Linked DNA regions of Homo sapiens. The protein of the gene in region 1 interacts with the protein of each later gene in a biochemical or structural test. Each region holds a gene or a part of one and is shown in the gene's direction. Other genes may lie near its edges.

Region 1 (4,470 bases):
AACCTCTCCCTCCCAGGTTCAAGCGATTCTCCTGCCTCAGCCTCCTGAGTAGCTGGGATTACAGGCACTTGCCACCACACCAGGCTAATTTTTGTATTTTTAGTAGAGATGGGATTTCGCCATGTTGGCCAGGCTGGTCTTGAACTCCTGACCTCAGGTGATCCACCCACTTTGTGGATCTCCCAAAGTGCTGGGACTACAGGCATAAGCCACCACGCTCGGCCTCATTGTGTCTTCTGCCTCAGTACATCCATATTTTGAAATACATATTATTTTATTATAATTTGTTTTTGAGACAGGGTCTCCCTCTGTCACCGGGCACTGTAGCATGTGTCTTTCAAACATTATCTCATTTGATCCTCTCCCCAACTCTAGGAAGAAGATACAATTATTATCATCCTTATTTTACAGAATTGGAAACCAAGGCACAGAGAGGTGAAGGGACTCGCCCAAGGTCACACGGAAAGTGGTGGGTCAGGGGATTGAACTGAGGGCAACTGGCTCCAGACCCTGAACTCTCCAACCCTCTGCCACCCTCCTCCTAGGTGAGGGAGATTACATTACTGGGGACCCTGTTTCAGGATATTAAGGGGTTTTCCAAGATGTTTCTCATAGAAAAAAGAAAAAAAAGGGTGTGGCTCATGCCTGTAATCCCAGCACTTTGGGAGGCCGAGGCAGGCAGATGACTTGAGGTCAGGAGTTCAAGATCAGCCTGTCCAACATGGTGAAACCCCATCTCTACTAAAAATACAAAAATTAGCCAGGCATGGTGGCAGATGTCTATAATCCCAGCTATTCGGGAGGCTGAGCCAGGAGAATTGCTTGAACCTGGGAGGAGGAGGTTGCAGGTTGCAGTGAGCCAAGATCACACCACTGCACTCCAGCCGGGCGACAGAGACTCCATTTCAAAAAAAAAAAAGAAGACAAGCAAGATGTTGAGTGTGACTGGGTGGAAGCCACTGACTTGTCCCTGGCACAAGTGTGCTGATATCCCTTCCCCCTCCTTCCTCACGTCCTGCATCTCAGCGAGAATTGGGGTGCCGGGGTTAGCTGTGTGGCCGTCATCCCAGGCCCAGGTGAAGCCCTCGATCAGGTGAGGCCATGATCCCAACGAGTGTTTTAGCCCAGATCCTGCCTCTTCCCTGCTTTCTGCCGAGAAGCGGGACCTCCTCTATGGAAAATATCCAGCTGGGTGAGCCTGGGAGGGAGGAGGTGAGTTGGGCTGGACTCAGGGACCGACTCTTCCCGTCTCATGACTGTGTTTACTGGGCTGGATTTTGGGAAGGGGCCAGATTGCATCAGACAGGGCCTGATGGGCTGGAGCCAGACTGTGGTCTGAGGAGGAGACACAGCCTTATAAGCTGAGGGAGTGGAGAGGCCCGGGGCCAGGAAAGCAGAGACAGACAAAGCGTTAGGAGAAGAAGAGAGGCAGGGAAGACAAGCCAGGCACGATGGCCACCTTCCCACCAGCAACCAGCGCCCCCCAGCAGCCCCCAGGCCCGGAGGACGAGGACTCCAGCCTGGATGAATCTGACCTCTATAGCCTGGCCCATTCCTACCTCGGTAAGGCCCACTCAGCCATCTCCACGGTCCTTCCTCCTCTCCCGAAATCAGGACCCACCCCTCTTGTTTCCTCTCATTTCCTTTCCTTTCCTCTTCGTTTCTTTCTTTCTTTTTTTTTGAGAGAGTCACTCTGTCACCCAGGCTGGAGTGCAGTAGTGTGATCACAACAACTCAAACAACTCACCGCAGCCTCGAACTCCTGGGCTCAAGTGATCCTCCTGCTTCAGCCTCCTGAGTGGCTGGAACTTCAGGTGTACACCACCTGCAGTGGTGAGATGGGGTCTCACTATGTTTCCCAGGCTGATCCCAAATTCCTGGGCTCAAGCAATTCTCCTGCCTTGGCCTCCCAAAGTGCTGAGATTACAGGAGTGAGCCACCCTGCCCAGCCCACTCACCCTTTTCTAGCCAACCTGTTCCTTGGACCCTCACGTCACCCCTGTCTAATCCCTTATCCCAGGAGTGCTATGTTACTCAGCCTGGGACCTCACACACATCTGGGGTCCCACATTCCACAGAGGGGAAGCAGCAGGCTTCTCCCTGCTCTTCCCATCCCCACAACCCTGAACCCCTGCCTCTCCTCTGACAGGGCCTCTCATCATGCCTATGCCCACTTCACCTCTGACTCCTGCCTTGGTTACAGGAGGTGGAGGCCGGAAAGGTCGCACCAAGAGAGAAGCTGCTGCCAACACCAACCGCCCCAGCCCTGGCGGGCACGAGAGGAAACTGGTGACCAAGCTGCAGAATTCAGAGAGGAAGAAGCGAGGGGCACGGCGCTGAGACAGAGCTGGAGGTAAGGAGTCGGGGGGCCCAGAGAGCTCAAGGTGGTGCTTCTGCCATGAAGGACAGGCCGGAAGGTGTGTGATTGGGTGGGGAGGAGGGATCAGGCAACTGTTGTCTTGATGCAGAATAAAACGAGACATATGTTTGATTGTGAGTTTCCTAGTGGCCAGAGCAAAGTGGGAACACAGAACCTTTCCAATTGAAGGGAAATTTGACTTACAGAGACAGAAATTGAGGATAGAGAGGGTGGGTCCTTCCCTGGAGTCACAAATCAAGTGAGTGGGAGAGGCAGAATTAGAACCCAGATCTCTGTCCCTTTTACCACCTGCTTTTCCTCACCCCCCAGATGAGGCCAGACCATGGACACTACACCCAGCAATAGAGACGGGACTGCGGAGGAAGGAGGACCCAGGACAGGATCCAGGCCGGCTTGCCACACCCCCCACCCCTAGGACTTATTCCCGCTGACTGAGTCTCTGAGGGGCTACCAGGAAAGCGCCTCCAACCCTAGCAAAAGTGCAAGATGGGGAGTGAGAGGCTGGGAATGGAGGGGCAGAGCCAGGAAGATCCCCCAGAAAAGAAAGCTACAGAAGAAACTGGGGCTCCTCCAGGGTGGCAGCAACAATAAATAGACACGCACGGCAGCCACAGCTTGGGTGTGTGTTCATCCTTGTTCTTTGTGTGTTTTTGTTCGGGCATGTGTGTGCTTGCCTGTGCCTGCACATTCATGAGCCTGAGAGAGCATCTTTGATGTGTATTTGTGTTTGGTGTATGTATCTGGGGCAGGGAGTGTTCCTGCTCTTGCAGGGTCTACGCTGTGAATGCAGCTTTTGGTTTGTTTGCTTTTGCTTGCATATATTTTAGTGCATACATTTCTGTGGGCTCCTACGTAGTGGAAAGGAATTTCTTCTGCTTTTTTGCGATACTGCCCATGAAACACGGCCCTCCCCAGCACCTGTTTTTGTTGATTGTGTCCTGTTCATAGACGGGAACGCTACTTATGAGTGCCATCTAAAAGTCAGAGAAAACTGAGATTTAAAATATTAAAAGCCAGGGCCGGGGGCAGTGGCTCACGCCTGTAATCCCAGCACTTTGGGAGGCCGAGGTGGGTGGATCACAAAGTCAGGAGTTCAAGACCAGCCTGACCAACATGGTGAAACCCCATCTCCACTAAAAATACCAAAAATTAGCCAAGCATGGTGGCAGGTGCCTGTAATCCCAGCTGCTCAGGAGGCTGAGGCAGTAGAATCGCTTGAACCCAGGAGGTAGAGGTTGCAGTGAGCCGACATCGTGCCATTGCACTCCAGCCTGGGTGACAGAGGGAGACTCTGTCTCAAAACAAACAAACAAACAAAAACTAAAGTCTGGGAGCAGTGGCTCATGCCTGTAATCACAGCAGTTTAGGAGGCCGAAGTGGGAGGATTACTTGAGCCTAGGAGTTTGAGACCAGCCTGAGCATCATAGTAAGACCCCATCTCTACAATTTTTTTTTTGAGACAGAGTCTCACTCTGTTGCTCAGGTTAGAGTGCAGTGGCACCATCTTGGCTCACTGCAACCTCTGCCTCCCGGGTTCAAGCAATTCTCGTGCCTACGCCCCCTGAGTAGCTGGGATTACAGGTGAGCACCACCACGCCTGGCTAATTTTTGTTTTTTTGTTTTTTTGATACAGAGTCTCACTCTGTTGCTCAGGCTGGAGTGCAGTGGCATGATCGCAGCTCACTGCAACCTCCGCCTCCTGGGTTCAAGCTATTCTCCTGCTTCAGCCTCCTGAGTAGCTGGGACTACAGGCACCTGCCACCATGCCTGGCTAATTTTTGTATTTTTAGTAGAAACAGAGTTTCACCATGTTGGCCAGGATGGTCTCAATCTCTTGACCTCATGATCCACCCACCTTGGCCTCCCAAAGTGCTGGGATTACAGGCGTCAGCCACCACGCCTGGCCAATTTTTGTATTTTTAGTAGAGATGGGGTTTCATCATGTTGGCCAGGCTGGTCTCAAACTCCTGGCCTCAAATGATCTGCCCACCTCAGCCTTCCAGCCTTTGGGAGGCCAAGGAGGGAGGATCGCTTGAGGCCAGGAGTTCGAGACCAGCCTAGGCAACATACCAAGGCCCTGTCTCTACAAA
Region 2 (2,532 bases), on another chromosome or scaffold:
TGGGAAGGGCTTTTCTGTCTCTGAAATTGATTCAGTACAGTTGACAGTTCATCACGGTTACCTGGTTAAACACTTTTTTTTTTTTTTTAATTCTCCAGTGATCTAGGAAATTGTTTCATTTTTAACACAGGCTTATTTCTGATGGGGATGGGGGCATAGAATAATATGCCTAATAAGCTAAACGTTCTTAACGTTTCATGTCTTAAACTGTCTTTTTGAACATTGAGACCACCTCAAGTGCTGTAAAAATAAGAATGTTATATTAGGGGTGTGTGAGACGCCCTAGTCTAAAATCTATCTTTAAATATATTTCCTTTGTAATTTTCAAAGACTTCAGTAATTGTGTGTTATGGTGGAAATAATACTTTCCATTGGTCCACATTGCTCTGGACCAAACCTGGAGCATTTCTATAATTAGAGCTATCTATGAATCATTAAAAATGGATCTAGAATAATTTTGGGGAGAGGGAGTGTATCATTTAGTTTAGGCTTACCTCAGCAGCACTTCATAGGGTGAGGAGTTGTTTGTTTCTTTAAAGGTATAACTGCATTGTAAAATGACTGGGTTTATTGTAACAGTAATTTATGGGGGCACCCTTTTTGGATTCTCCATTGCCTCAGTTTCCTCAAGGAAAAAGTTACAGAGATTAAGCTAAATTTTGAATTTAGAGAATAACTGCTGTGTAATTTTGGTATAATTACCATAAATTTAGTGTCTTAAAACACAACATACATTATTTCACAATTTCTGTAGGTCAAGAGTGTAGTTAGGTTTTCTGCTCAGGGTCTCACAAGGCTGCAATAAAGGTGTCAGCCAGAGCTGCAGTCTTATCTGAAGCTAGGGGGTCCTCTTTTATGCACATATGGCAAAATCCATTGCCTAGCAACTGAAGAAATCATGGGAACTTCTTCAAGGCCAGCAAGAGAATCTCTGATCTCAGGGAAGGCCTTAAGCGCTTTTTTAAAGGTCTCACCTGATTAGATCAGGCCACCTACCCACCAGGGTGATCTCCCTTTTGATTAACCCAAAGCCAAACTGATGAGGTACCTTCATTACCCCTGCAAAATCCCTTCACCTTTGCCCTGCATTGTAGTCCAATCACAGGGGTGATACGCATCATATTCAAAGATCCTGTTCACAGTCAAGGGAGGGGGTTATATGGAGTATGTATACCAGGGAATCTTGGGAGCCATCTTAAGAGTTCTTCCTATGACAAGGACTCAACTATTTAGAACTGGAACAATTTACAAGTGATAGCCTTATATAGTTATCATAGCAAGCTTATTTGGGGATCAAGGTTGCCTCTGAGAACCTAATGAAAACTGGACCAGCTTCCCCAAAAAGTGTATATACATGGTAGTTTTTCATACAGTTTTAGGGGATTCATAAGAGTCCATGAATTACAGTCTGTCCCAACCCTTCCCTTTAGATGATGAGTTGTTGAGGTGACTTGCCCAAGGTCACACAGCTACTAAGGGCCAAATAAAGCCCACATCTCAACTCCCATACTGCCCAGGGCTTCTAATTACTATTCTAAAGGTAATCTAAATTCATTTAAATTTGTGAACCAATGCAAAAAAATGTGAATGTAGCTTTTTGGATATTTTTTTTGTTTACTAAGGAATGGGTAACATTGTTATAGAAGCTTGCCTAAGAGTTTTGAAATTAGTTGACCTTTTTGAGTTTCCAAAATTGAATCTTCCATTGTAGCTATTAAAGTGAACTATAAATAGGCCAACTTTAATTGTTAACTCCTCGGGTTTGGTGGATTATCTACCATTTATATATAAAATTTCAGTTAGAATCCACCATTGGCGTTTTGAAGGCCAAGATAGCTGAGTATCTTATCCTTTTTGTAACTTCTTGATTATTTTACTTATTGGCAAAATTCATTAACTGTCAGCCAATAATTTAATATTATGGGAGGAAAAAATTTTGCCCAGATATCTGAGGCAATACTCCCAAACACTAACAAACTGATGCCTAACAAACTTGACATTTTGAACACTTAAAGTTTTCCCTAAACTTTTTAATAAGCACATTAATAAAGTATGCTTTTAAATATATATGTACAATAATTTTTAAAAGTTGCTGCAAGATGCCTTCAAATCAATATGCACGTTGGTGGCATTAGTGCAGTCTTCTATTTTTATTTTTTTGAGACACAGTCTCGCTCTGTGGCCCAGGCTGGAGTGTAGTGGCGCAATCTCGGCTCACTGCAACCTCTGCCTCAAGGGTTCAAGCAATTCTGCCTCAGCCTCCTGAGTAGCTGGGATTACAGGAGTACGCTACCACGCCTGGCTAATTTTTGTATTTTTAGTAGAAATGGGGTTTCACCGTATTGGCCAGGCTGGTATTGGAATCCTGACCGCAAATGATCTGCCCACCTCGGCTTCCCAAAGTGCTGGGATTACAGGCGTGAGCCACTGCGCCCAACCAGCCTTAATTCTTAATAAAGGAAGTTGAAAAATAATGAACATTGGTAAAACTATTCTAGTGTGATCAGAAGCAAATTTGGACTGTAGTGTCAA

The links.
Region 2: the proteins of NUPR1 (region 1) and KPNA4 form a complex in vitro, tested with the Homo sapiens proteins (one study listed by BioGRID).

What each region holds. Positions count from the first base shown.
Region 1 is NC_000016.10:28,535,889-28,540,358, reverse strand, and holds the start of NUPR1 (nuclear protein 1), read left to right. Parts: upstream 1-1,384; 5' UTR 1,385-1,451; coding exon 1,452-1,563; intron 1,564-2,149; coding exon of another isoform or gene 2,150-2,203; coding exon 2,204-2,340; 3' UTR 2,341-2,353; intron 2,354-2,689; 3' UTR 2,690-4,470. UniProt on the Homo sapiens protein: Transcription regulator that converts stress signals into a program of gene expression that empowers cells with resistance to the stress induced by a change in their microenvironment.
Region 2 is NC_000003.12:160,497,040-160,499,571, reverse strand, and holds part of KPNA4 (importin subunit alpha-3), read left to right. Parts: 3' UTR 1-2,532. UniProt on the Homo sapiens protein: Functions in nuclear protein import as an adapter protein for nuclear receptor KPNB1. Binds specifically and directly to substrates containing either a simple or bipartite NLS motif.